4 linked regions of the Homo sapiens genome follow. The protein of the gene in region 2 interacts with the protein of the main gene of each other region in a pairwise test. Each region holds a gene or a part of one and is shown on either strand. Other genes may lie near its edges. The genes, in order: KASH5, FRA10AC1, MOB2 and ESS2.

Evidence for each region.
Region 1: the proteins of FRA10AC1 (region 2) and KASH5 interact in binary tests that used the Homo sapiens proteins (3 or more experiments, as listed by UniProt).
Region 3: the proteins of FRA10AC1 (region 2) and MOB2 interact in binary tests that used the Homo sapiens proteins (3 or more experiments, as listed by UniProt).
Region 4: the proteins of FRA10AC1 (region 2) and ESS2 interact in binary tests that used the Homo sapiens proteins (3 or more experiments, as listed by UniProt).

What each region holds. Positions count from the first base shown.
Region 1 is NC_000019.10:49,391,249-49,398,267, reverse strand, and holds part of KASH5 (protein KASH5), read right to left. Parts: intron 4,923-7,019; exon of another isoform or gene 4,869-4,922; coding exon of another isoform or gene 4,868-4,868; exon of another isoform or gene 4,849-4,867; intron 4,792-4,848; exon of another isoform or gene 4,436-4,791; coding exon of another isoform or gene 4,411-4,435; intron 3,793-4,410; coding exon 3,688-3,792; intron 3,163-3,687; coding exon 2,976-3,162; intron 2,500-2,975; coding exon 2,435-2,499; intron 618-2,434; coding exon 551-617; intron 287-550; coding exon 125-286; intron 1-124. UniProt on the Homo sapiens protein: As a component of the LINC (LInker of Nucleoskeleton and Cytoskeleton) complex, involved in the connection between the nuclear lamina and the cytoskeleton.
Region 2 is NC_000010.11:93,699,589-93,706,740, forward strand, and holds the start of FRA10AC1 (protein FRA10AC1), read right to left. Parts: upstream 3,005-7,152; 5' UTR 2,787-3,004; exon of another isoform or gene 2,586-2,786; intron 2,208-2,585; exon of another isoform or gene 2,088-2,207; intron 519-2,087; coding exon 442-518; intron 1-441. UniProt on the Homo sapiens protein: May be involved in pre-mRNA splicing.
Region 3 is NC_000011.10:1,483,769-1,491,745, reverse strand, and holds the start of MOB2 (MOB kinase activator 2), read left to right. Parts: upstream 1-4,966; 5' UTR 4,967-5,189; coding exon 5,190-5,299; intron 5,300-7,977. UniProt on the Homo sapiens protein: Stimulates the autophosphorylation and kinase activity of STK38 and STK38L.
Region 4 is NC_000022.11:19,134,652-19,141,670, forward strand, and holds part of ESS2 (splicing factor ESS-2 homolog), read right to left. Parts: intron 5,377-7,019; coding exon of another isoform or gene 5,374-5,376; coding exon 5,204-5,373; intron 5,079-5,203; coding exon 4,961-5,078; intron 4,642-4,960; coding exon 4,508-4,641; intron 3,829-4,507; coding exon of another isoform or gene 3,769-3,828; exon of another isoform or gene 3,667-3,768; coding exon 3,564-3,666; intron 2,782-3,563; coding exon 2,672-2,781; intron 2,296-2,671; exon of another isoform or gene 1,688-2,295; intron 1,609-1,687; exon of another isoform or gene 1,558-1,608; intron 525-1,557; coding exon 409-524; intron 1-408. UniProt on the Homo sapiens protein: May be involved in pre-mRNA splicing.

The sequences.
Region 1 (7,019 bases), on a different chromosome or scaffold from region 2:
AAGAAAGGACAGGTACAGAGTCAAAGAGCAGGATGCAGACACGAGCATGGGAGATAGAGGCCGGCTGCTGCAGGGAGGACGGAGGCAGGGGCGCTGGGGAGGGTGGGTGTGGCATCCAGCCCACCTGTGAAGCTGCTTACGCAGAGCCAAGATCTCCTCCCCAAGGCGTGCTGACCCCTCCTCAGCTGTCTCCATGCTCCGCTGCAATTTGGCATTCTCCCCAACCAGACGTCGGTTGCTGAGCTCCAGGTCCTCCAGGCTGCTCAGCAGGTCAGCTGTGGCTTGTCTAGGGGCAAGGAAGGGGTTCAGGTCACTGTCCACAGCCCCTGACTCATTTCCCCGGGTCGAGGTAGGTGCTGGTGGTGGGGAGATGTGGCTCTTTTGGGGAAAGATAAACAGGAGAGAGACTCCTCTGCTCTCCCTGAACTTTCAGCAAAGCCCCGTCCCTCATTCATTTCCCTGAAGGATCCCAAGCCCTACCCGGGCCTCGGCAGGCTGGAGGGGACAGGGTGTGGGCAGGAGGGTCAGGGAGGGGTGTGAGGATAGGTACAGCTCGGGTCTGGGGTCTTCGCCTCCGAAGCTCTCCAGGTTGGCTGGCTCCTCAGCTTCTGGGCATCCTGGAGGGAGAGAGCCAAGAGAATGTTGGCTTCCCTGGAACCCTTAAACGTAAAGTGCCCCAGGGCTCTGAGGTTGGACTCCATCTGCCTCCACCCTCACCTGTGCTCTGGAGAATCTCATGGGCTTTTGGGGCTGCAGTTATACCCACTGTAAAGCCCTCTTGCTTGTCTTCTACCTTGAGCTCAGGCTGGATCTCCCAGATAACCCTAACTCCCCACATTCTTTACACCCAACACTGGGCAGCACTTCACCTTCCCCTTCCCAGATCCCCCACCGACCACTCAGCCACTGGGCGGACCTGGCTCCCTTGCTCCCTGTCACCCCCAGTCCAGCAGAGCCCAGACTTCTCCCTCCTGCCCCTGACTCTCTGCTCCACCCCTCCTCTCTGTCTCCATGCCCCGGCCCTTGCTTTCTCCTCTTGGATCCTCACCAGAGCCTCTTCTCTGGCCTTCTGGCCTCTAGTCCCTCCTCTGCTTGCAGCCCTCCCTGGGCCCCCAAGCCTGATGAAGGAGGTTGAAGAGAACTTCCTTCCCCACCGTTTTTTGTATGGCTAGAGAAATGGAACATGACCACCATTTTTTTTTTTTTTTTTTAAAAGACAGGATCCTGCTCTATTGCCCAGGCTGGAGTGCAGTGGTGCAATGCATGGCTCACTGCAGCTTTGACCTTTCAGGCTCAAGCGATCCTCCTGACTCAGTGTCCCGGCTAGGACCACAGGTACATGCCACCGCACTCAGCTAATTTTTTATTTTTAGTAGAGATGGTGTCTCACTATGTTGCCCAGGCTGGTCTCAAACTACTGGGCTCAAATGTTCTTTCCACTTTGGCCTTCTAAAATGCTGGGATTACAGGCTCACGCCTGTAATCATGACCACTTTTTTTATGGAGCACCTCCTATGTGTGAGGTCCTGGGGATACAATGGTGAGCAAACCAGCCAACTAAACCCAGGTGCCAGTGGCTAACTAGATAATCAGATTTCCTCTGCAGGTGGATGTTCCAATGGAAAGGCCTACAAGTCTAGGAGTGAGCATGGGGAGCAAGGAACTCTAGCCAGGGGCATACCAGGGCTTCCCCTTTGCCAGAGGAGTGGATGACGGCTTGGCGCAGTGGCTCACGCCTGTAATCCCAGCACTTTGGGAGGCCAAGGCAGTTGGATCACCTGAGGTCGGGAGTTCGAGACCAGCCTGACCAACATGGAGAAACCTCGTCTCTATGAAAAATACAAAATTAGCTGGGCGTGGTGGTGCATGCCTGTAATCCCAGCTATGCGGAAGGCTGAGGCAGAAGAACTGCTTGAACCCAGGAGGCGGGGGTGGCGGTGAGCTGAGATTGCGCCATTGCACAACAGCCTGGGCAACAGGAGTGAAACTCTTATCTCAAAAAAAAAAAAAAAAAAAAAAAAAAAGTCCAGCAGGGTGGGGAGCAAGGAGTGGAGGGGAACAGCCTGAGCAAGGACCTGTGCTGGGCAGAAGTGGGGCACATTCGAGGAAGGGCAGCAAGACCAGTGGGCCTGTGAATTCCTGGACTAGAGTGAGGAGAGGTGATGTTAATGATGGAGCAGAGGTAGGCGGGGCCTCGTAGGCCTCTCTAATAGGGCTGGTGTGAGGAGAACGAGTTGGAAACCACCCTCTGAAGAAAAGAAACCCAAAGCTCACGGAAGGAAGGGACGGAGGACCTAGAAAGCCACACTCACAGCTCTAGTCTACAGTAAAGGTCCCTGGTTCCTACCCTATCCCTTGCTCTGCCCTGGGTGGTAAGTCCCCACACTGTCTGACCCAGGGCCTGCCTGCTTCATTCTATATATAGCAATCTCACCAGATGGCAGTTGCCGGGAGGTCAGGGCTCCCTGGAAGGCGGTCTCCTCTTCCAGCTCTAATCCCCTGTATCAAAGGGATGAGGCTTAGCGCCCCACTGTAGCTGCCCCTCAGTCCTCACCAGCCACAGGCAGGGGGATTGCAGGTGGGAGGAGGGGACCGGGTCAGGTGAGAGCTGGCACCACAGGGTAGGAGGGTGAGGCCAGATGGCAAGTGCCCGTGGCCAGATGGAAAAGCAGGAGGGGCAAGGAGTGGGTTTGGTGAAGGGTTGGGGAGGGACCTCTGTCAGCCCCAAACTCCTCCCTTCTCCAGCCCCATTTTATTTCTGTCTCCCAGACCCCCTCTGCTTCCTCATCCAAATTATTTTGTCCTCAGACTCCCTATCTACCCCCTCTGAATCCCGTCTCTTCATTTTTCTCTCCACAGCCTCATTCCAAACACAGTAGGTCCTTGGGCCTAAAGGATGCTGGCTCCAGTAAGCAGGTATGAGGTTAGATCTTAGGAAGGACTTCCCAGAGGAGGATGAAGATGTGGGGACTCACCCATGTAGTTGACAGGCAGCAATCCAGTCACGCATGACAACCAGGAAAGTGTCCAAGTCCACAGTGGCCTTAGGGCCCTCCCCATTGGGGTCCAGGCTGTTGGCCAATGTTTGGAGGCGTGCATCCTGGGGGCCCTGGCCTGTCACAGCCTCCAGGTAGGCCAGCACCTGGGCCACAGCCACAGTGCCTGTGACAGAGCATGCAGTGAGGGGGTCTGGGGCAGGTGGGGAGTGATGGGTATGGACTGGCAGCAGCTTGGGACCAGGATGTCACTGGCTAGGCTGGTGGCACTCCTGCTCCATGGCCCAGTGGAGACACACTGGGCAAGCCCTTTCCCCTCCTCTGAGTCCACTTTTTCACCTGGAAATGGGGCCCAGTCATCCCCCCATCACAGGGTAAACCAAAGGGGATGGACATAGGGACAGCATCAGCCATGCCCCACGCCACCATGGTGGCTGCCTCCCTCCCCTATCCCACGACCCCAAAACTCTGCCCTCTTCCATCAACGTCCCCCAAGTTTTCCTCATTCTAAAAGGCCTTCACCCCATTATCCACGTTCTTCTTCCTGAAGCTTCCCATAATCACCCACTTTGTTCTTACAATACCCCCAAGAGGGGGCCTTAGCCCAGTCTTCTCTCTGAGGCTCCCCAGTTCCCAGCCTCCACCCCATCCTGCCCGCACTGGTCCCCAGCACCCCTCATGCCCCCACCACCTGTCCTCTGAGGGTCACAAGCTTCGAACGTGGAGTTGAGTATTTGCTCCTCCAAGCTGACCGGCATTCCCAGCCTTGCCTCCTCAGGCCGCTCCCGGAGGTACACTGGGGAGACAAGAGGGCTCAGCTCACCAGTGGGAAGAATAAGGAAGGAAGAGGGGTGACCCCAGGTCCTCAGCCTCCTGGGCTCTGTAGCGGGGAGGGAATTCACTCAGAGCACTGAGAGTTCGGGCGGGTGGGGAACAGCAGGAAGCTTCAGGAGGGGGCAACAATGTGAGGGTCTCTGAGTTACTTCCCCCCATCTTTCAAACCAGGAAGTCCCCCCTGCTGTCTTTTTGTGTCCAATTGGCTTAGGAGCCCAGAGAAGAACGCTCTGAGATCACCCTTTCCTCCTCTCCTCTCCAGCCTCCCAGGCTGGACTCAGAGAGGGACAGGGTCGGGGAGGGCAAAGAAGAGAGGATTCTGGGAGGAGCTGAGAGTGAAGGGGGGGCCCAGGAGCCAGGAACAATCCAATAATGCATGGGCAGCCCAGATCGATCCCGCCTGCTGCATCTCCGGTCTCCCAGCCCACCCTGGGGACCAGGTCTCTCTCCTCCCTGCATCCCTAAGGCAAGGGTGGCATCATTGGAGCCCATGGCCAGGGGCTGAGACATGAAGGGATAGGGTAAACCAGACAGGGTGGGCAGTGAGGGAATGGTTATGAGCTGGATCAGTGTGTCAGACCTGGGTGCAGAGTCCAGCTGCACATCTGTGGGCAAGTCTCTTCTGTTAGAGCCTCGGTTTCCCTACTGGGGGGGTGGGTAGAGTGATCCTCCTCACCAGGGCTGAGTTAGCTCTGTGTATGTGAAGCACACGCATGTACACACACACACACACACACACACACACACACACACACGTCCTGGGGTCTATTTGTCTACTGTTGTAGCCACAACACCTGCAGATGGCAGGTGCTCAACAAATGCTCCATGACATAGGAAGAGATCCTCAACTGCAGGAGCCACTGGGCTGGCCCAGCCTCTCTCCCAGGGCTGGAAGTGAACTTCTAGGCTCCCTGCCCTGGCCTTGAACAGCTGGGTGCAGCAGCTCACTGAGCACAGGCTGCAGGACGGGGTAGATCCAGGGGGCAACCGAGGCTTGGCCTCAGACAAGTGGTGGCACCTGGGGCAATGGACTCAACTTCTCTTGGGCCTCAGTTTCTTCCTCTGGAAAATGGGGTTGGTGTTACCTCTTTCCTAGAGAGAAAATGAGATACAATCTAGAAAGGCTTTGGCAGAAGGCCTGGCACGTGGTGGGGACTCAAGAATAGAATTGAACACTTATTGAGCATTTAGTAGGTGCCAGGCCTTTTCTGAGCACTTTACATGAACTGTCTACTAGCATAATAATAATCGATGCTATTATAATCCCTACTTTACAAATGAGGGGACTAAGGCATAGAGAAACTAAGAACTCGCCAAAGGTCACCCTGTTTAACATATGAGTCAACTTTCTCATCCCTCTAACTCTTCCAGGATTCTCTGCAGTGAGTGAAATTTGCACCCCCTCTGTCTTGAACCTATGCTCCTAGGTTTGGCCCTTGGGAAGGGGCGTGTGGACTCACAGTTAGGGGGAGACCAGGGCTTTAGCCCCAGTCTGTTTTCCTCCTCTCACTGTTTTTTTTTTTTTTGAGATGGAGTCTCGCTGTGTCACCCAGGCTGGAGTGCAGTAGCGTGATCTCCGCTCACTGCAACTTCTGCCTCCAAGGTTCAAGCAATTCTCCTGCGTCAGCCTCCCGAGTAGCTGGGATTACAGGTGCCTGCTACCAGGCCCAGCTAATTTTTGTATTTTTAGTAGAGATGGGGTTTCACCCTGTTGGCAAGGCTGGTCTCGAACTCCTGACCTCAAGTGATCCGCCCACCTTGGCCTCGCAAAGTGCTGGGATTACAGGTGTGAGCCACCATACCCAGCCCTCTCAGTGTCTTTCTCATGTTACATGAACGAGGACCCTGAGGCCCAATGAGATGGTTCACCCAGGGCTGCTTGCCAGAGAGAGCTAAGCTGGGAATAGAACTCAGGACTGGCATCAGGTCGTGCTGGCTCTGAGGATCAGCATGTGTCTGAAGTCGCATCCCAGGATTCCCCCAGGGAGATGTCATTTCTGTTCCTCAGGAAGATCTCCTTCCTCAGTGTCTCTATCTCCTCTATGTCTCTGTCCTTGCCTCTTCGTTACATTTCTCTTTGGCTCTTTCTCTCTATCTTTCTCCCAGTCTCTCTTCCCCACGTCCTGTCTCTCTGCCTCCATGTCGCTTGTCCCCGTTTTCTTCCCTGTATCTCAGTCTCTGTGCTTCCCTTCCCATATCTCAGAGACTCTCCATTCCCTAAGTCTTCTCTTTCCTTCCTCTGCTGTTTCTTTTTCCCTTTGCCTTCCTCTGTCTCCATCTCTCCTTCTGGGTGTGTTCCTACCTTTCCTTCCAGAGCCTCTCGAAGCTGTCTCAGCCCTTGCCACCCGGATCCTGGTGGCTGCACGCCCTCTGCTGGTGCAGGTGAAGTTTAGATGGCTGTCACTAGACAGCCTGTCCTCTGGTTCCCACACCCTGGTGTCTACCTCTGACCCTCCTATCTGGAAAGCCTCCTGAGGTCTGGGGCTTTGTAGAAAAAGACGCAGGCTGTGCCGTGGATGCCTGGGAGCCTCTAAGAAAGGGGCCCTACCATCCCCATCAGACTGGGCTCTCTCACTTGGCAGATGAGTTTCAGAGAGGCAACCCCAGTGCCTCCTCCCCACCCTCTGAAGCCAGCTTTCACACCCGTTCAACCTACATCCGTCCGTTCACTCAACAGTAAGTGAGCTCCCACAGTGAGTCAGGAGTTGCTCTGGGGTCCCAGCCAACAGGGCAGTCTCTCCTTCTGGAGCACCTGAACTGAGGCGAGTGTAGACTGAAATGCTCTGTTAGTGTAAAGTACACGCTAGATCTTTAGGGCTTAGTATGAAAAAAACAGATTATCTGGATACATTTTTTATATTGGCTATATATTGGCTATATACATATATATATCTCTATGTATGTATATCCTGTATACATATATAATATACAGGGTATTAGTCTGGCTATATAAGGAAAATCCATTATCAACATTCATTTCACCTGTTCCTTTTTTCTTTTAAAAAATAATAAATTACCTATGTGGCTCATATTATACTTCCACAGGACAGCGCTGCTCTAGGGACTGGGAATACCAGAGTGAATAAAACAGACGCTGCCTTGTGGAGCTCATGCTCTAGCAGGGGAGACAGAGACAAAACATGACATACAGATGTGAGCACTGTGAAGAGAAATGAAGCGGGGCAGGGG
Region 2 (7,152 bases):
GTCTGCTCATTCACGTATGCGTAAGAACTGTGCTGCATTATACTTTCATCCTCCATATTAACTTCACTTTGAAGGCAAGTAATGGCAAGAGACCACCATTCAAGCCCCTTCTGAGCTACAACATTTACAAATAAACAGTCCTTGACAGTTGAATGAAAAATATATGTAATGAAAAGGTTTCACTGATTTCTGAAAAGATTCCAGAAATCTGAAACTCTTCTTTCCCTTTCAATAAACCCCTTTGCAGAATTAATTTTTATTTTTCCCACAATTGTTCTCCAATTTTTAATCAATGTATTAGCTTAATGAACAAAAATTCATTCACTAGAGCAATTGTCTTCACATGTAAACAGAATTCAAAAATTTCACTCTTGTTTATTTATACTTCATATTAATCTAGAAAGGATGTGAAAAATAGATCAATAAAAAAAAATTACTTACCTTTTTTTCCTTTTGCTGGATTCTCCACAGCGTTCATCATCACTAAAATCAGAATCATAGCCTCCATGACCATGCATCTGTAAAGGAGTACAAAGTCAGCTATTTAGAATCTATGTTGCCAATTGTCCAGGAAACAATAATTCAAAAATAAGTTATCTTAAACAGCCACAATAGTTTTAAAGGATCATTGTGGGCAGATTCCTATTCACAGGCCATCTAGCCATCTAAAACTTTCATTCGCTTTTAAATAAGAGACATACCTTTCAGGAAATGCATCAACATTTTTCACCCTTAATTATCATTAGGTGAACAAAGAAGGCTACTCTTTGATCTTTTCACTGAAAAACCAGGCCTAAAAGCTGCAGTGACTGCTTACAAGGTTTAGCAATCCTTCACTTTTGATTCAGAGTAGTAATAATCACTGTGTGTTTATCACCAACTTTGTTCTAGACATTGTGTTAAATACTTTACAAACAACACTTCTAATTCTGCAAGTTAGAAAGTTATCTTCATTTAGGAATGAAGTAATCAAAGTTAAGTAAATCTATTTACAAATCCAGTAAGTGGCTAATCTGCTGTACTTGATTCCTGCGCCCACAATTTCAATTACTCCAAATTTCCTCTCTGGAATATGATTTACTATATTCCAGGAGAATTACAGTATTTGTGAACAGTACATCATCAATTGATGAAAATTTTCCTGTAATCTTTTTCAATATATGTAGAGATTTCCATTTTCTTTTGAGTTTCTTTAAGGTAAACCACCTTGCCCTTTGGATTAGTCAGCTTTCTCTTGTTTCATTTTATTTATCCAGTTATTTTTGGAGAGTCTCGCTCTATTGCTCAGGCTGGAGTGCTGTGGCGCCTTGATGGCTCACATCCTCAACCTCCTGGGCTCAATCAATCCTCCCACCTCAGCCTCTCCAAGTAGCTGAGACTACAGGAGTGCATAATCACACCTGGCAAACTTAAAAAAATTTTTTTTTTGTAGATAAGGGGTTTCGCCATGTTGCCCACGCCGGTCTCAAACTCCTGGGCTTGAGCAATCCGTCCACCTCAGCATCCCAAAATGCTGGGACTTCATTTTAGAACTGAAATTCTTAGAAATGCTGGAAGACCTCAGTTGCCACTCAATTGTATTGGAAGAAGCTCCTAGTTCCAGCTTTGCACTGAATTTGGAACACACACTAAGAAGGAAGGATGGACTATTTGATGTCATACATAACTAATTTACATGGCTGGAAGGAACAGTCCAGGTTAAATGATATATCAAATTGTTAAAACTAATATAACGACAGCAAGTGCAGCTGGAAAAAGAGGAAAGAACTCTCTAAACTTCATTGCATTGGATCTAGGGTAAACGACATGTTTCTAGTCCTGGCTACCTTGAATAAGTCATTTCATCTCCCTGGACTTCATCTATTAAATAAGATAGCTACATGAAATAATCTTTAAGTTGTTTAAATCTTTAAATAACCTTTAAAGTCTGTAATTCCATTTTCAAACATAGGTGTGTGGGTATATACCTCTCTTCTCTGCCCCACTAAAATCCTAGATAGGAAGATGCTAGTTAAGGTTGGAGATGAAGGTTTGAAAGCCCGAGTTCCAACTCTACCCTCCCTTACATCTGTTATTGCCTTACACACCTGGATTTTACACCCTTTTTTAGGTCAACTCCAGCTGTCTTACCACATCTGTTCAAGCCATATTGTCCTCTCACTCTTTGTCCTATGTCCTCACGTTCTTTACATCTTGATGGGGGACAGCTGTAGTGTGTTTAGAGATATATTCTAGGATCAGCCTACTAGATTTCACTGCTTGGCTCTGCACTTTCCATTTGTCTTTCTTTGGGCCTGTTCCTTAACCTCTCCAAGCCTCAGTGTCCTCATTTATAAAAAGAGGCTAGTAAGATGGCTGACCTCATACGAATGGAGATTAAAAGAGTTGCCTCATCTAAAGGGTTTTAACGGTGTCTTGTACAGTGAAACCCAGTAAATGTTACATCATCATCATCATCTTTTCCCTCGCCCCAGGACACGACTTCCTATTCTTGCTCCCACTCTCCCATTTCTTTATTCGCTGGCCGCTCCATCCGACCCATACCTATCTTAACTCACTGGTTGAACTAAAAAGCTCTCACTCACTTCAGGCCTACGAATCAACTGACAAGAGCGGGGAGAAACTCAAAAACGGAGATGCCAGGTGTCTCCAGAATCTGTCATCCAAAAAAAAAAAAACCAAACCAAAACAAAAAAAAACCCGACGATCAGCTAGTACTATATGAAAAACAAGTTTTGAGGTCCTTCTCCCTGATGCCAAATATACCCACAGCCCTCCTCACACACCCTTTCCCTTCCTCCCTGTGTGCCAAGTTCGCCCCCGGAGTCGTCGTTTCCTTCTTTCCCGGCAGCTGCAGCGACGACCCACGGCCTGAGAGAGCCGCTGCAGCACAGGTCCCGTGCGCCCTGCCGCACAGCCTCGCCACAACCACCACCGCCGCCGCCGCCGCCGCCGCCGCCCGCAACCCGCCTCTCCCTACGGGTCCCGACTGGGCACCACTTCCGGTCCGACACGGCCACGTGTTACATCTAAATGGCACCGTCCCCCGAGTGCGCCGACCTTGTGCTACAGCCAGAACAGCTCCGGGAAACAAGGGCAGCGGGAGAAACGGCCCGGAAAGGGACGAAGAGGCTTCCAGCTTTCGCCAAGTCGCGGCTCCCAGTTTTTCCCTGGGCCTCCTTCCTTTCCCCTCTAGGGAATCCGGCATCTAGTACCGCTGGCACTGCTTGCTGCTTAGCCCACGCCTCTCATTTGAAAATATATTTTGTTTTACCGTGCCTATCACCTGCCGTCCTCTCTCTAGTAACCTTAGTAACGCCTCCTCGGAGGATCCTCTCAGAGCAGCTCATCAGCGCTTCAGATCAGCCTCTCCCTCCTTCCCCCAGTAAAACAGTTCTCATAATTAGAACAAAAATATCTCTCCATCGTTTCGCCACCCACACAATAGATACCATTCCAAAAGCAGTGCTGATGGCAGAAGAGCTCATCGAATTTGTGAGGAAAGAAAGAATAGGAGGAGAGATTTCTCAGGGTTGAGGATTCTCTGCCGACAAGCGACCTGGCACATGCGAAAAGGGATCCAAAATAGAATCTTAAAAAGAAGAAGAAAAAAGGCAGGAAAAGTTGGATTATTTTAAGCGCCACTAGGTTCTTCCTGTGCTTTGCGTTTTCTACATCACGACGCCCCACTCTTTCCACTCTAGTTGTTTGGTTCATGTCTTGTCTCTCGCTGGCATTAGCAGCTATTCATTTTTTGCTTCCTCCTCAGTACCCAAAACGGTGCCTTGGAAATCACAAGTGCTAATTAAATATTTGTTGAATTGAACTGGCACGCTTCTGGCGTTTACAGTGGGCCCTTTTTAGAGAAAACCTTGGCACTTAATGCACAGTCATTTTACATCTTTTGCCCTAAACAGTAGATAACGATATCCTTATCAGTTCAAGTCTCTAACCCTGACAATAAATTATAGATACATTCTGCTTTATCCATTGCACTGAATGTGATCTTAAAAGGCTATAAGATAAATTAAATTATTGTAAATTAACTTATTCCAAAATGCAATCAGATTATACTTCAATAAAAACTTTTACTAAAAAAAGTGAAAGCAATAGGAAGCCTTACAATTTGACGTTATAGTATATGGAATTATTTTGTCAAGCAGTTTCTTTTTTGGTAAATATATTAAATATATAATTATTTTATTGTTAATAAAACTAAACAGACCTATACCTCATATCCAATTTCCTTTCTATCCATATTTGACATTTATTAGCATTTTTCTACCATCCCTAGCATCTTCTTGTTTGTTGCTTCATTTTACTCTTCCAACAACCCTGTGCTGCTGTGTTATTAGCCTCATTTTACACATAAGGAAGAGAGGCACAGAACCTAAAGCCACAAACCTGGTGAGGGTCGAGAACTGGGTAGTACTTGTGTCTGTCTCTCTATAAGACCCAGTTTCTCTCTCTCTCTTTCTCTCTTTTCTCTCTCTCTCTCTGTCTCTCTCTCCCCCACTTCATGGATTGTGTGGGAAGTAGCTTCTGGTTCCAACATTTCTAAGAATTTCAGATCTGTTGCTACCAGTCCATTCAGGCAAAGATTTCCATTTTTTACTTTGAGACAGCAGTTACTGAAAAAGAGTAAATAGAAAATATATATTAGGCATAGATTGCATGATCTGAACTAGAAATAATACAGGATAGAAAACCCACCTGCTTAGGAAATCTCAAGTTAACAATTATAGCTCAACAACAATAAAAAACACAAACATTTATTCAGTGCCTACTCTGGGCAGGACACTGCCCTAGACATCAGGGTTACAGGTATGTAACAGCAACTCCTTATCCTTGAAGGTTGACTAGTAAGACAGACAATGTGTGGAATAACTACAACAATATATTCTATCATATACCAAGTGTCTAGTACATGCATGAACCTGTTGTTCCTAATTTATAAAATATGTTATTTCAATGGATATGAAAATTTAAATGTGCACCAATGCTATGTAACTCAAAGCAACAAAATACTATATTAAGTATGTGGTCAGGATGAGGGAAGTTGGGTGATGATGGTGGTGATAATACCAAGTAATAATTCTGATATAAACTATGACTGTGCATTCTTTTTTATTCAAGACCGAGTCTCACTCTGTCACCCAGGCTGGAGTGTAGTGGCGTGATCTCAGCTCACTCCAACCCCTGCCTCCTGGGTTCGAGCAATTCTCCTGTCTCAGCCTCCCGAGTAGCTGGGACTAGAGGCGCACACTACGCCCGGCTAATTTTTGTATTTTTTTACTAGAGATGGGGTTTCACCATGTTGGTCAGGCTGGTCTCGAACTCCTGACCTCAGGTGATCCACCCACCTTGGTCTCCCAAAGTGCTGGACTTACAGGCGTAAGCCACCGCGCCCAACAAATGTGCATTCTTTCTTTTCTTTTCTTTTTTTTTTTTTTGAGACAGGGTCTCACTTCATCACCCAGGCTGAAGTATAGTGGTGCCATCTCAGCTCAACCTCCACCTCCCGGGTTCAAGCCATTCTCCTGCTTCAGCCTTCCCAGTAGCTGGGACTACAGGTGTGAGCCACCATGCCTGGCTAATTTTTGTATTTTTAGTAGAGGCAGGGTTTCACCATGTTGGCCAGGCTGGTCTCGAACTCCTGACCTCAAGTGATCCCGCCTTGGCCTCCTAAAGTGCTGGGATTACAGGGGTGAGCCACTGCGCCTGGCTGAATATGCATTCTTCTAATACTGTGTGTCTTTGAGAAGATTGCATTTTCCATGTTCTTTTTATAATATGATGCTGACACTTCTCTAACATAAGCTAATACCTATGGCCACAGCTTTGAATCTGGGCATGTCAGTGACTATAGCAGAAGTAATGCTAAGACACTTCTGATGCTAAGTTGCAAAAGGTGTTAGAGCTTCTGCCTGGGTTTGTCACTCTACTTCTTTAGCTGACATGGAGTGGAGCAGAGATGAAGTAACTTCACTGAGCCTCACCCAGATTGCAGACTAATAATCAGAATAAGTATAATTGTTTCAAGCCACTAAGACTTTGAGGTTGTTTGTTATATACCGATAAATATCCAGAACCATCTGCTGTCTCACTTAACCTCCATAACATTTGATGTTATGGAGCCACGCTGGGCTTTCTTTGTTTCTTCAACATGCATGCCTCTTCAAATTTACCATTTCCTCTACCCGGAATGGTCTTAAACCCTTTCTGTTTGCCTCCCTAACTCCTCTTTATCCTTCAAAACTCAACTTAGGTGAAGGAAAGGCCTTTCATGAGCATCTCTCCCACAGACTAGATAGGATTACTGATAATATGCACATTACTTTCCATTGCACTTAGCTACATACGTAGTAATAATTTAGCCCTGTTTCCCTCACTGAGATGCAAGCTCCACAATGGCAGGAAGCATACCTCTCTTTTTCAGTGTGGAATCCCCAGTGCTCAGCACAGTGCCAGACACATGATAGTTGCTCAGAATATTTATTGAACAAATGAAGTGGGTACTATTATTATCCCTATTTTACAATAAGAAAACAGATTTTTTTAAAAAAATTATATAACACTTCCAGAGTCATGAGTAAGCAAATGGGGCACAAATATAAGTGACTTCAAAGCTCACACCATATATATGTGTGTGTGTGTGTGATATGGTTTGGCTCTGTGTCCCCAGCCAAATCTTATGTTGAATTGTAATCCCCAATGTTAGAGGTGGGGCCTAATGGGAGGTGATTGGATCATGGGGGTGGTTTCTAATGGTTTACCACCATCTCCCTAGTGCTGTCTTGTGATAGAATTTTCAAGAAATCTGGTTGTTTAAAAGTGTGTAACACCTCCCTCTTTGCTCTCTTTCTCCTACTCCTGCCATGTAAGACATGTCTGCTTCCTCTTCACCTTCCACTACGATTGTAAATTTCCTGAAGCCTCCCCAGCCGTGCTTCTTGTGCAGCCTGTAGAACTGCGAGTGAATTAAACCTCTTTTCTTTACAAATTACCCAGTCCCAGGTAGTTCTTTATAGCAATGTGAGTACTAATACTAAATATATACATATATATATACACACACACATATATGTATATATAGAGAGAGATAAGTAGAGAGAGAGTGTTATCTCTCTGTTGCCCAGGCTAGAGTGCAGT
Region 3 (7,977 bases), on a different chromosome or scaffold from region 2:
TGCGCGTGTCTTCGTCTGTGTTGTGCGTCTTCATCTGTTGTATGTCTTCACCTGTGTTGTGTGTCTTCACCTGTGTTAATGTGTGTGTCTTCATCTGTGTTGTGTCTTCGTCTGTGTTGTGTGTCTTCGTCTGTGTTGTGTGTCTTCACCTGTGTTATGTGTGTGTCTTCGGCTGTGTTGTATATCTTCGTCTGTGTTGTGTGTCTTTGTCTGTGTTGTGTGTCTCCGCCTGTGTTATATGTATGTCTTCGTCTGTGTTGTGTGTCTCTGCCTGTGTTATGTGTATGTCTTCGTCTGTGTTGTGTGTCTTCATCTGTGTTGTGTGATTTCGTCTGTGTTATGTGTGTGTCTTTCTGGGATGTTTTAATTGTCAGTGGGAGAGTGTTACTCTCCTCTATTCTTCTTGATTTTCATTGGACTCAACTGTGAAACTTTCCTGCTTGCTTTTAAGTGACCCCACTTTCCCTGTGCCTTTGTGAGGGTGCCGGGGGCATTGTTTTGCTGCTTCCGTAGCTTTTGAGCTCCTTCTTCTGTTGTTTTCACAAAGTGATTAAAAACACGAAGCTCTCCACGAGTCTCCTTGTTGGAGGGGAGGCTACAGACGAGCAAGTGGAGGGGCCAGTGTGGTCCAGGCAGTGATGGCTGCAGGGGTGGGCTGGAGACCTCAGGGGAACCCCTGCTTAGCTTAGTATAGATACAAATGTCGACATGTGGGTGGAGATTGAGGCGTATGAGTGCATGTGTGTATACACATGTGCCTCCGTGTTCTTCCAGCTGAGAGGGCCTGGAAGCAGTGACACCCACTAGCAACGAGCCCACCCAGTGCTCTGATCTTAGTGTTTTCGTTTCTCGTTTGTGTAGACCCAGGCTGGAGTGAGGTGGTGTAGTCATGGTTCACTGCAGCCACCAACCTCCTGGGCTCAAGTGATCCTCTCACTTCAGCTCCTCAGTTGTTGAAACCACAGGCACATGCCACTATGCCCAGATAATTAAAAAAAAAAAATTGTTTTAGAAATGGGGGTCTTGCTGTGTTGCCCAGGCTGATCTGAAACTCCTGGCCTCAAGCGATTCACTTACCTGGGCCTCTCAAAGTGCTCTTGAGATTCCAGATGTGAATCAACGTGCCTGACCAGGTCTCAGTTTTGAATTCATTCATTACTGTTTTGGGGCAGGGTCTCGCTCCGTCACCCAGGCTGGAGTGCAGTGGTGTGATTATGGGTCACAGCAGCCTCAATCTCTTGGGCTCAAGTGATCCTCCTGCCTCAGCCTCCCATGTAGCTGGGAACACAGACACACACCACTATGCCTGGCTAATTTTTACATTTTTTGTAGAGATGGGGTCTCCCTTTATTGCCCAGGCTGGTCTCAAACTCTTGGGCTCAAGTGATGGTCCCTTCTTGGCCTCCCAAAATACTGGGATTACAGGCATGAGCCACCATGCCTGGCCATTTTTTTTTTTTTTTTTTTTTTTGAGACGGAGTCTTGCTCTGTCGCCCAGGCTGGAGTGCAGTGGTGCGATCTCAGCTCACTGCAAGCTCTGCCTCTCGGGTTCACGCCATTCTCCTGCTTCCGCCTCCCGAGTAGCTGGGACTACAGGCGCCTGCCACCACACCCGGCTGATTTTTTTGTATTTTTAGTAGAGACAGAGTTTCACTGTGTTAGCTCGGATGGTCTCGATCTCCTGACCTTGTGATCCTGACCTTGTGGGAGGCCCGTCTTGGCCTCCCAAAGTGCTGGGATTACAGGCGTGAGCCACCACGCCCGGCTGCCTGGCCAGTTTTTAATATTTTCTAATGAAAAGAACCAGGGCTCCTTGGAGAAGGGGCTGATTCCCGGGCTGGGGCTGGGAATGCAGGGGGAGCCTGGAGCACCCTGCAGTGCCAGGAAATCAGGACATGCCCCAAAATGAAAAGTCTGTTGATGGGGGTGCATCAGGGGACCCAGCAGCTGATGGCAGGAGCTCCCCAGGGCCAAGGACGGACAGTGTGATTCACAAAACAAAGTAGTGTTGTGTTCTAGCTCGGAGTGCAGCCTCAATAGCCAGGACTTCATCCCAATATAAACAAATGGCTGAATATATAAATGAGTGACCAAGAAGAGGCCGCTCTCTGGTGCCGAACTTCCAGTAATTCCCGTAGCTACTCCTCCGTCAGGGTGGTAAGGGGTGGTCCCCACCCCTTCAGTGTGGTCTGCGTGCAGCAGCTTCGTTCGAGAGCGCGGTGCGGGGCGGGGAAGACGAGAGCGTCTTTGCGTGGGGAGGCCTGGCAGTCACAGCCTCAGCCAGGAGATCGGGAGCACCTCCCGCGATGAGCCGTGCTGACAGGACGGGCCGTGGGCACGGGGCGACGAGGGGGACATTTCCCTCTGTGCTCTTCCTACCCACACCCACAGCCCAGCCTCGTCGTGAGGAGAGCAATGGATGGATCCAGACGTCTGAGTCAAGTTTGGACCTTGCTGCATCAATGTGGATTTGTTCATTGTTAACAAACAGACCATCCTAGTGTAAGGGTTAGCAATAGGAAGAGTGAGTGGGGGGCCATGGGGATTCTGTGTTTGCAGTTCTTTGTAAATCTAACACTTTTCTAAAACTAAAAGCTTATTAAAGGTAAAATAACCTCTGACACAGACACATGGCCCGTGCCCCCTGCCCCGTCCCGCCTTGGTTGCGACCGTTCCCCCCTGCGTGGTGCCTCTGCCCCGCTCCTGTGCTCTCTGTTCCTGGCCAGCTCCTGGCCCTGGCTGTGCCCAGAAGGTGCTTTTGCTCTTCCTTTTCTGGGGTGGCGGGGCCAGGCCACACTGGCACCCGTCACTGGCCTGCGGGCCTCTGTGGCAGCTCCTCGTGGAGTCTGCAGAGCCTGCTCCAGGTCTGCTCCTCTTCCCAGTGCAGTGTCTGTCGCTCAGTGTCTGTGGGTTCCAGCTGCCCCTCACCCTACCCCACTCCTGCCCCACTACCTAAGTTTTGATCAATAGGAATACCTGCTCCCTGCACGTGTCCCCCAGTGAACAAACACAGATGAATGTGGACGTTCCTCTGGCGCCAGCCCAGCCCTCTCGGGACAGTGGCATAAGCCACAGAGCTGCCGTGTGCTGACCAGACCCACTGGGCACACTTGGTGTGCTCCCCCACCCTACCGGGCACCTTGTCTTGACTGTTCCCCCGCCCCCGTGCCACCCTCACCACTGCCTTGCCTGGACCAGACTAGGCACGCTTGGTGTGCTCCCCCCACCCTACCCGGCACCTTGTCCTGACTGTTCCCCCGCCCCCGTGCCACCCTCACCATTGCCTTGCCTGGTTGCCTGGCTTCTTGTGCCCGAAGCCTCCACCATCCCCAGCTTCCTTTATGCTCTGCCCTCCAACCCCCAGCAGCTCATTCTCCCTGTCATGGGCCTCTGCACGGCCTTCTCTGTCCAGGCCATGCCTCCCGAGAGTGGGCAGGTCTGCGTCATGCACCTCCTGGTCCCAGCCCTGCTACTCACGGGGGCCTCCCCAGGCCTGGAGCCCGCTCTTCCTGTGGCTCCCTTTGCCACTTGGGTGACCTGCCAGCACCTGTGTCCCTGCTGTTGGTGGAGCCCCCGAGGGCAGACCGGCAGCCGTGAGCACGGTGCCTAGGTGCGTGTGGCACCACAGGGCTGTGGGATGGCCTTGCCAAGGCAGAGGAAGGCCTGTGGGCGCATGGACGTCCTGAGCCTCACCGGGCTGTTTGTTCTGTAGAGACCAGTTACGCACTGCTCAGAGCATGGCTTAGGGACTGGCCTAGTGGGGAAAATGAAACTGCAGCCTGTTGGGCCTGCTGCTGCTGCTGCTTAGGGAGGCGGGGGCCGGCCTGGGGCCATCCTCTGCTGTGGCTCCTGGAGAGTGTGTCTGTGCTGGGTTGGTGTGCTGTCTCCCCGTGCGCCCAGGCTGTGTGTGTGCGTGCAGTCCAGACACCACAACTCCCATGGGGGCTGGTATTGATGGGGGTGAGCCTACCCTGGCTGCTTTCCTGATGGCTCTGTGCTCCCCGCAGCAGCTGGTACCTCAGGCTGTGTCCTGACTCCTACAGGGCTTCACACCGACAGAGGTGCTGGGACAGCTTCTGAGGGGCAGTGGCTGGAGATGCTGGGGTCTCTTGATTGGCAGGAAGCACAGGAAGTATGGCTCCCATGCGGGTGGGGGATGCTCCTGATGACCCCGTGTTGTCAGGGGGCTGTCACTGCCAGTGGGGTCCACGCTGACTCAGGATGAGGAGAGAGCATTGCCCTCTCAGGTGTTTGCATTTTCAGGATGTGGTGGTCTCCTGTGTGCAGACCAGCCAGAAGGAAGGCCGGGGCCGTGCCGCTCTGTGCGCCCCCATGGGGAGCTGCTGTGGGCATTTCTGTTGGGCTGGGTGCCCTGTGGTCCTGGCTGGCAGCAGCCTCAGCCCAGCACCGTCCAGGCACCGCAGAAGCTGGTCGGCCCCTTCTCTCTCCAGGGCCATCCAGCAGGAAAGCCACTTTGAGTGCCTCCAGCTGCGTACACACTGCAGGGCAGGGCGGCCCATCTGTCTGTCCGTCTGTCCGTCCCTGGCCCGAGCACTGACTGGGCTAGGCTGGGCCGGACAAGGGAGAGGGGAGTGCCATCGACCTGGAGCTCGTCAGCAGAGTTGCTGCCTGTGTTCAGAAGGCCTTTCCTGGGGGCTTGGCAGCAGAGGACCTTGAGGTGGAGCCCAGGACCTTTCTGATGGATCCTTCTTGCAGGCCAAGGACGGCCCTGTCCCCTCCCTTCTGGTCCCACCCCCACCGCCTCTTCTGGCAGCCTGAGGTGGAGCCCAGGACCTTTCTGATGGATCCTTCTTGCAGGCCAAGGACGGCCCTGTCCCCTCCCTTCTGGTCCCACCCCCACCGCCTCTTCTGGCAGCCTGAGGTGGAGCCCAGGACCTTTCTGATGGACCCTTCTTGCAGGCCAAGGACGGCCCTGTCCCCTCCCTTCTGGTCCCACCCCCACCGCCTCTTCTGGCAGCCATGCCACTTGGAAAAGGCCAATTCAGACGCTCCCTCGTTTCACCAGCCTTGGCCAGCCCTTGCCTCTGGAAAGGGGGCAGCTGTTTGTCTCTGCCAGGCGTCCCATTGGCCAGGGAGTGAGGCTGGAGGGCCCGGCAGCAGGCATTTGCGAGTGCTGGCCAGCCGGCACCCCGCCCCGCTTCTCCTCCCCACCTTCCCGTCGCCCACTCATGCTGGGAGACCACTGCAGTCTCCCTGAAGACCAAGCCCGGCCCGGCCAGTCCCTGCAAAGTGGACTCTGCTGCAAAATGGTGCTTCAGGCTGTCAGCAAAGTGCTCAGGTAACACCTGCCAGCCTGGCTGGGGGAGGGGTGTGTAGCACATCTGTCTGCCCTGTTCTTGCCCCCAGGAAGGAGGTCAGGGTGGGGAGGCGGCGGACTGTGTCCGTGGCTGCCCTCCCAGTGTGGCCGGCGGCTGTGCAGCGAGCTGTGCTGGGCCACACGCAAGCTGTCCAGGGCAGAGGCGGCTGTGCAGTCCCGGGCCAGCCTGGCGGGTTTGCTCTGGAGCCCTGCCCAGTGGGGCTTTCCTTAGCCGCCTGCACTTCCTGTTGCTCTGTGGGAGAGGAGCGGGTCTTGGTGTCCTCGACCTTCGGGGTTGACCCCACCTTGCCGGCACAGGAGCCTGCCTTGTCCTCCCGCAACCCACAGGGTGTGGTTCCTCAGCCGCCAGCAGGTGTGCCTGTCTTTGTCCCAGCGTGCGGCTGTTTGTGCCCTGGGCAGGGGCTTCAGCCACCCAGGCAGAGGTGACCCGGAGTCTGTCCTTGTGTGGCCTTGTCCAGAGAAGTGGCATGGGGTTCCCGGGTGCCTATTTTTGTGCTGGCTGCCATAGGGATGTTGCCGGAAAATCCATTTTTGACATTTTTCTCACCTGTACTTTCTCTGACCTGCTGCGGGGGTGCCTCCCTGCCCACACCACTCAGCTCGGTGTGTGCAGGGGCGTGTGTGGGAGTGTGCGCCCAAGTGTGTGGGAGCGTGCACCCGTGTGTGTGGGAGTGTGCACCCGTGTGTGGGCATGAGGGGCCGGGGGAGTGGGGCAGGCACAGCCAGCTGCAGCAGTGAGTGTGTCCTCCCGGGTGGGGTTGCCTGGTGGGGGTGTGAGGCGAGCGTGGCCTGCTGGACGTGCCCTCCAAGGGCCGGGGGCTGCGGCACCCGTGTGCATCTCCGTGCCTCTGCCTGTCCCTGGGCACCCGGCTCCATCTTTCTCTTCATAGGCTCCTTCCCTATCTCCCGATCACCTGTGCATTCAACAGGGAGGGCTCCACAAGTAGACACAAGAGTGCCGGCCGGTGACCCTGCCTAGGATGTCCTATCTTAAGGTGAAACTGTGAGGTTTTGGAAATGTGTGGGCAAGTTGGCAGTACTCGTGAGTTCAAATCAGGAATGGTGCCTGACATCAGTGGTGTGAGGGGACTGGCGTGTGTGTGTGTGTGCCTGTGCCAGTGTGTGCTTGTGTGTCTGAGGCCAAATGCCGAAGGCAGCTCCACAGGAGACACAGAGGCAGGCCTGGAGCCCAGCCAGGCCCTAAGGAAGACGGGCGGAGTCCCTTCCCTGGGGCTCAGGAAGGTTTCAAAGGAAGCGATGAGGAAGCCACCTTGGCTGGGAGCTGGATGCATGGAGGGGCCGAGGCGCAGTGGAGCATGGTGGCCACGTGGGGCTGAGGTTCTAGGACAGCAGCAGCACCTGCCTGTTTGGACGTTTGGTCTGGGATGTCTGCGGGCGTTCCTTGTGCCATCTTGGCTTTTTCCTTCTCAATGGGCCTCTGCAGAGGGCACAGTAGGCTGGTAAAAGCTCGCTTTGTCTGGGGCTGCTGACCTGTTTGGGGGGGCAGACAATTAAACTCAGAAGAAAAGAAGCCACACTCCACAGCTTCCAGCTGGCTGAAGCCTGTGGGCAGTGCAGGCTGTGCTGAGAGATGGACAGGGGCTCCGGAGGCCTTCCCACCCCTCAGCCTGAGGCCGTGTGACAGAAGTGGGATCAGCACCCAGGGAGAACTCGGGTTAGAACACGGTGTTAGAAATGCAGTTTTCAGGCCCCCCCTCAACACCCAGAAGGCCACATCAGAAATGTAGGGGTGGGGGTGGCGCCAAGCACCCCAGCATGTGGTGCCCTCCCTGCATGTTGGGGTGACAGGAGGTGCCCGTGGCGTGCACCCTGGGCAGCAAGGTGTGCTGAGACCCAGGCTCTGTACCGGGTGGCTACTGGGGGCTCTGCCTGGCCGGGTCTTGGGGGAAGGGGTCACTGGGAGCCTTGACTTTCAGGCTCTGGGTGGACCAACCAGCACTGACATTCACCCGAACCAAGGAGCATGAGGGGCCCGGTGCAGATGGCTGAGTGGGGTCCAAGGACCATGCCCTCCTCAGAGGCGTCACCTGCGGGCCTTTCTCCTGCACCCCACACGCTGCCTGGTCACCGTATTTTCCAGGCCTGGGCTTGGGGACTTGTATTTCTGGGCCCCTCGTGCCTGCCCCACCCCTTGGCGTTGACCTGTGGTGGGAAGTGCCAGATGAGGGCCACCTCCTGCTGCTGCCCACTCACCTCAGGGTCTACAGGCTCGACTTCCATAGCAAGCGTGCTCTGGGCGAGTGGGGGTCTCTGAGCCTGGAGCACCCCATTCCTGTGGGCCGTGGGGCCTGGCCAGGATTCCATCCCTGTGATAATGAAGTTGACACTCGTGGCAAAGGTGCAGGGCACTCGGTTGTGCTGTCCTCGTCCCTCAGGGCGGATGAGGAGTGGGCGGCTCCCAGCCCACTCCCCAGCTCCCCCTGCCTGTGAAGCAGTGTGCACCTGCTGTGGGCAGGGTGAGACCCCCTGTGTGTTGACTGTGTGGTTGTCTAAGTTTTCCACGGGAGCCCAGCAGCTCTGATGCCTCCCTGTGCCCCTTCCCTTGCCCACCAAATTTGTGTCTAGCAGGGATTGCCTCACTTCCCAGTAGGGATCAGTTACGTGCTGGGTGCCAAGGA
Region 4 (7,019 bases), on a different chromosome or scaffold from region 2:
CGCTCAGGTCAAACCTGAGGTCAAACAGCAGCACCGCCCTTGGCTGTGGGGGCTGGGGTGCACCCCCAGGCCTCTGAGAGTTGGAGTCCCCACCCCTCTCCAAGGGGAACGATGACTCTCTCCACAGGGCTGATGAAAGCTCCCAGCAGGACCACACGCCTAAAGATGCCTCTTAGGGACGGGTCAAAGAGGACGTGGAGGAAAGAGAAGATGGAGGGGGCCTCTCATCCTGTCCATGTGCGGCCATGCTCTGGATAGAGGAGCTGCCACAGTACCCACTGCAGAACCCCGCGGACCTGCCCTGGACTCTGCCGCGTGGGCCATGCCTCCACACGGTCAGGGCAGGGGCCGAACAGGAGCAGGCCAGAGCCACCCTCGCACTTCCCCACCAGCCAGGCGGCCCCTCACCTGGCCAGATTCTCCGTCACTCTCCGCAAGGCTTCCTGCTTCTTGGCCCGGTTCTTGGCAGCGGCCTCGTTGGCCATCTTCAGACCCAGCCGCTCCCTGCGGCCTGGCTCCAGGATCTACAAGGTAGCAGGTGTGTGGGTAGCTGCGCCAGGCCTGCCACACGCCAGGCAGCCCCTCACACAGAAAGCCACTGTGGTGGGTGCCAGCCTCTCTTTGTTGCCTACAAAACCCCCACAACCCATCACCTCCCACTAAAAGCCCCTGGAAAGCCCCAAACCCCACCTGACCTGCCCAAGGCGCAGCACTCCTCACCTGTCTTCGTGTTCCTCCCAAAACCATGACCTCTGACAATCTCTCAGGAAAAAGCAGTCTGTTTTAGTGTTTCCCTGATTATCAGAGTGAACATCTCTGTCTTTATCGGCGCTCTGTATTTCGGGCGCTTCCCCGTGTGCCTGTGGCCTATTTTGCTCTCAAGGGGCTCATTTTCCTTTTCTGCTGCTGTTACTCAGAAGACCCTTGCCAAGACCTTGTGTCAAGTCAACTGTGCTACGCTGTGCACATGTTTTTTCACTCATTTACATTTGTTTCATTTATAACATTTTCTGCTGTATTTGTTATTTTCATTTGTGATTTCTTCCTTTGCTTTTATGTTTAGAAAGTCCCTCCTAACTTAAGATTAGACTACAGGCTGGGAGTGGTGGCTCACACCTGGAACCTCAGCACTTTGGGAGGCCAAGGTGGGAGGATCACTTGAGCTCAGGCATTGGAGACCAGCCTGAGCAAAATGACAAGACCTCATTTCTACACACACACACACAAAATTAGCTGGGCATGGTGGTGTATGCTGTTAGTCCCAGCTACACAGGAGGCTGAGGCTGGAAGGTCATTTGAGCCCAGGAGCTCAATGTTACAATCAGCTATGATTGCACCACTGTTCTCCAGCCTGGGCAACAGAGTGAAACCCTATCTGTTAAAAAAAAAAAAAAAAAAAAAAAAGAGGCGAGGCACAGTGGCTCACGCCTGTAATCCCAGCACTTTGGGAGGCTGAGGTGGGTGGATCACGAGGTCAGGAGTTCGAAACCAGTCTGGCCAAGGAGTTCGAGACCAGTCTGGCCAACATGGTGAAACCCCATCTCTACTAAAAATACAAAAATAAGCCGGGCGTGGTGGCACGCGCCTGTAGTCCCAGTTACTTGGGAGGTTGAGGCAGGAGAATCACTTGAACCCAAAAATCAAACTAAATATTCGCCACTATTTTCTAGTCCCAGTTACTTGGGAGGTTGAGGCAGGAGAATCACTTGAACCCAAAAATCAAACTAAATATTCGCCACTATTTTCTTCTGGTTGTTTTATGGTTATTGTTTTTACATGTAACCTTTTCACCTTTCCACAATGTATGCTGCTACACATCCTGAGGACCCAGCTCCCTTCATTTCTAAATACTCTGCTATTCAGTGCAATCTGAGTTGCCATCTTTATCGGGCCCCAAATTCTGACTTGGATCATGGTTTGTTTCAGAATTTATCTGTTTACTGTTGGCCTGGAGACTCGGGAAGCAGTGGCAGGCATACCTCAGAAGCACCTCAGCCCTTGCCTTGCGCTCTCACATTGGACAGCACGGCATCCTCTTCATTATCCCTCTCGCACGTTTGCCTTGGTTATCCTTGTGTCCCAGACAATTTAGAACCAAGGTAACCAGAACCTCTCCCCATGTTTTGTCTGGACATGGGTTACCTGTACTAAGTATTCTGGGGAAAGGCCCGCAGTGGTATGGGGAGGCCTGTTGTATCTGACCCAGCCCACGAAGAGCCTCCCCTGGTCTGTGCCGGGCCTCACACACTCCACCCTGACCACTCCTACAACACCAGGCTTGAGCCGTGTAATCCAGCGTGTCCCAATCGTGTTCTGTAACCAGGGGCCTTCTCTACAAGCACACAGCCTCGTCCTATGGCCCTCAGGCCTGCAGAGCTCCTCACGTGTCTGTGACCATCCTGCCTCATTCATGAACAGCACCCGGCCTCCAGGATCCAGAGGGCCCAAGCCACTCCCTGCCTTGGTGTCTCAGCCCTTACACCCCCAAATCCCTCTGTGACAGGTCCACCCACCCACACCTGCCTTCAGCACCCTGGCATTCAGAAAAGCCAGCACTCTGCCCGTCAGCAGCTGGGGGCCGATCCCAGTGCTCAGTCCTGAGCCACAGGCACTCAGGGCTCCAGAGGTGTCCACCCCGGTCGCACACAGTTCCCCCATCACCACAACCCACCTTAAAAGCTGGGCCGGGTGTCCTGTCCACGTAGGGCGTTTCCGACCCTTCAACTCTCAAGGGTGTGTTCTCAACCTCCCCCCAGGTCATCATCGGGGACTCGTTCACACCTGCAGACAAAGAGCCCAAAACCACCTCAGGCCAGAGGACTCCCCACCACCCTCCCCTCCAGTCACAGCTTGTTCACCCAATGTGCATCCCAGCTAATACGAAGGCAGGCAGCTAGCCCTCTCTCCTTCCCCAGGACTCTGGAACCCTGGCACCTCCATCCTCCGAAAGGGAAATGCCAAGCTCCCAGCAGGCCCGAGGCAGGCTCAAGGCCCTACAGCCATGTGCTTAGCCTACAAGCCTCTGGGAGGTCTCCCCCAGCCACGCAGGAGGAGACACTCAGGCCTTCCAGGGCTCCCAAACCTCCTAGAACCCCAGGCAAACCTGTGGTGCCTTCACATGCCCTGGCGTGTGACACAGCACCAGCACCCAAGAGCACAGAGGCCAGAGTGCAGAGGGACACCCACGCATGCCACAAGACCACCTGAGTTTCACCTCCACTGAGGTGCTGGGCCTCCCTCCCTGCAGTGCTAGGTAGACTTAGACTCATAAGCACTGTGCACACACCCCCACCCACTGACATCACAGTAAGGACCAGGACAGGACACGTCATCCCAGGATGTCTCAGGCCAGGTCTGCCTGAGAGTCCAGCCCACCCACGGCCCCAAGCAGCCTGGACACCTGGCCTCTAGGGCCTTGTACAGACAGGAGACCAGGTCCCTGAGTTACACAAGGTGTGGGGCAGGCCAGGTAGAGGCCAGGAGTGGCCAGGGCCGACTGAGAAGCCCACCTCCCCCAGGGAGTCCCAGCAGTAGACCCACTTGCCAGTGGGCACTTTTCTCACCAGGGGCAGGGGAAGGAGTGGCAACAAATCCAAATCCACCCACTCGAGGGGACTCCTGGGGGATCAGCTCCTTGCCATCGGGGCCCACCTTGCCCTGTTTGTGCTGGAACAAGCAGAGAGGCTGGCATCAGGGGGACCGCAGCCCACGCTCGACAGCTGGCCGGTGGGCAAACACGTGGGAACATGCTGGAAACACTTCCTCTCCTCAGGGCAAGGCTGGGGCTCTGGGGTTGGCAGCCTTCTTGGAGAAAGAGAGGGAGGGCCCCTGCCCCAACCCCCCAAAAGACCTTGAGGGCCTGTCAAAGTGGGTACCCAAGCAAGGAAAGCCCCCTCCTCCCATCCAGGGAGGTGCCAGGGCCTCCACTCGAGCTGCGCCTATCCCAGCAACTCCAGAGGATGCTGACGCCAGGCCCCTGCAGGGGGCAATGCTGATGACAGGCAATGCTGATGACAGGCAATGCTTATGCTCTAGTCTCTTCCTGCCTTCCCCACTTCAACCCTGTGACTGCCACAGTCACCATCAGAGAGTATCTACTCGTCTTGCTCCCAGACTCAGAAAGCCTCTGCTCTCTGCCAACCCAGGGCCTGTCCCACCCCAGCCACCCCCTGGGGCTGGGCTCCCTCTGCGGCTCTCTGGCTTCCCTGCCCGGTGTGTGGGCGTGCAGCTGCCAGCCTGGGCTCACTCCCAGCAGTCCCTTTTCTCTCCTGCCCCTGCCATCAAGGGAGCTGGCACAGATCTGGACCTACAGAACGTGTGTGACCAAGGCAGTGTTCAATGGAAGCCCACTGGGGCCAAGGAAAGACTCAGGATCCTGCCGCACAGGGCCCCAGATGGTTCCACTCACTGAGCTCTGCCAAGCTCAAAGAGATGGGAGAGATCATGCCTGCCCCCAGGCAGCCCTGTCCAACCTGGCCCATGCGGCCCTGCTGACCCGCCTGCTCACCTGGGCATTGAGGGCGGCTGCCTGCTGGAGCTGGCACCTGCTCAGGGCTTGGCTGAAGGGGTCCCTAAGGAAGCGCGTGTTCTTATGTACCACCTGCCGGGGCTTCTTAAACAGCTGCTCCTCGTCAGGGACACCTGGCAGACGAAGCAAAGGTAGCAGCAGGTGTCAGAAGGGCAGCAGCCTAAGGAGCATGAGGAGCTCGCTTCTCGGCCAAGTCACTCCCAGATGAACAAAAGCATTGAGCAGAACGCAGGCCCCAGTGCCGCTGGAGAGGGTCTCACTCACTGCTGACCTCACACAGACCTGTCCACCCTTAGACAGACCAGTACCCATCAGAAGCCCAAACTGCAAGGGGGCACGGCCATACACACCTGGAAGGCTGCTCCAAACACAGCCAGACACACACAGCTCTACCCAACACCTCCCCATTTGGCTGCGAGGCCCGCCACTTACCCTCTGGATAGTACATGAGGGAATTCTTGGCCTTGTACTTCCAGGTCTCCACACTGGCCTGGCTGCTCTCGATGGCCTGGTGCTCTGCTGACGGGAGTTCGAGATTATCTTTCTGCCTCTGCAATCACATGGGGAAAAGTGATGGTCAGAGATGCCCCTGGGCATTGTACCCATGGCCCTGGGGCTCCCCAACCACCACAGAGGGTGCCTACGCCTATGTGACACCCCAGACCCCAGAGACACCTTCTCAAACTCTTCCTCAGCCTGGTAGAGCCAAGCGTGGCGTGCCCGGCTTCTCTCCTTGGCCACCTCCATGATCTCCTGGAAGGAGGCATTGTCCTCACTCGTGTAGCGGCTCAGGAAGACATCTAGGCTGGGCAGCGGCTCCTTCTCCTCCTCCTCTCCAGCCTCTCCTGCTTAGGGGTTGCGGGAGGAGGAACACAGCACCCTTTGCAGTCAGGAAAGAGGAGGACACCCAGGCCCAGGAATCATAGCCCCCAACATGCAGGGCTGGAATCCTCTCCCCTGGTCCTGGCTTCTGCCCATGAAAGCCCACACTGCCAAGGACTCCCCACGGGGGCAGAATCCACCCACCCTGACTGCCCAGAGAGCCCTCAGGTGGTACCCTACAGATTCAGGGCCAGCTCTGCTCATGTGCTGGATGCCAAGGGAATTACGTGGTCTGATTCAGACTGGAGAAAGCAATACAGGTGTTAGAGCAAGAGCTCGTGATCACAGGCAGGCTCCTCCCCCACCAAAGTGGTGCCAGGCCTGTGGGTGCCAGGCCTCCAAATCCCTGGGGCTCTCCCTCACTCCCTAGGATTTCCTTACCTTACCCACTCTTCTCTTCCTGGTACCTGTACTACAGGTGGGTGGTCATCGCCTAATCATCCTGACCTGAGAGCGAGCCCCAATTCCAGGGATCTCATATGACTTAGTCCTCTGGATGGGGCCTCACAGGTGCTAAGCCACAACCCCAAACACCCCCCCCTCCGACCAACCCTGCCACCATGGAAAGTGGTACTCCCACTGAGGTGGTGCCCTGGTGCTGCGTGTGGTGGTGCAAACTTCGGTGGGGCCACCTGGAGAGCTCTGCCTTCAAGTCTAGTGACAGTCCTGACCACCTGCTACACGTGAGGCTATGCACAAGGCACAGTGGCTACAAGCTCAAGACCCACGGGATGAGGACAGGGGTCAGAAACTCTATTCATCTCAGAGAGATAAGAAGTGAAACCCTGACCATCTCTGAGACCTGCAGAAGTGACTGCCTTTCTGAGCCTCAGTTTCCTCACCTGTAAACATGATGATGGTTCCTACCACTTAGGTTCTGAAAAGGATTCCTATATTTACTGGCATGTAGGTGTACAGGTATTGAAAATCTGCAAACTGGCTAGGCATGATGGCTCACACTTGTAATCCTAGCACTTCGGGAGGCCAAGGTGGGAGGATCACTTGAGCTCAGAAGTTTAAAACCAGCCTGGGCAACATAATGAAACCTCATCTCTATAGGAAAAAAAAAAAAAAGGAGAAGAAAAAAATCTACAAATTGCCCTGTGATGCACAAGCTACATTTCAACAGATAATCAAGCTTCAAGGACAACAAGGACTGTGTTAATGGCCGAAAAAGCTGGATTGTAAAGCAAAAAGTATCATGTTTGCATGTTTGTGCAAACACACAACACATCTGTGCTACTCCAGCACAGTGGAGTCTACAAACTGATAAGAAAGAGTGTCTCGTTTGTCTATACATGCACTGACATTCTACTACTGATGAAAAGAGGGCCTGACAACGCAGAAGTCCCATGGCGTGCAGAACACTTGCATTCAACAGGACTCGGAGTGCCCTTTCCTAAACCGACTCCCCCATCAAGTCACGATGTTACCATATAGAGCTGTGTGTCCCAGCAAACATGCTGAAGATGACAACTCTTTCATCTGTTCCATGTGTATCTGTGCAAGGCCCACAACACCACATGTGCTGTTCCCAACACGGAGCATACAGATGAAAGCAAAACAAAGCTTCTGCTCTTGTGCAAGGGATGCCAATTAGGGAAAGAGA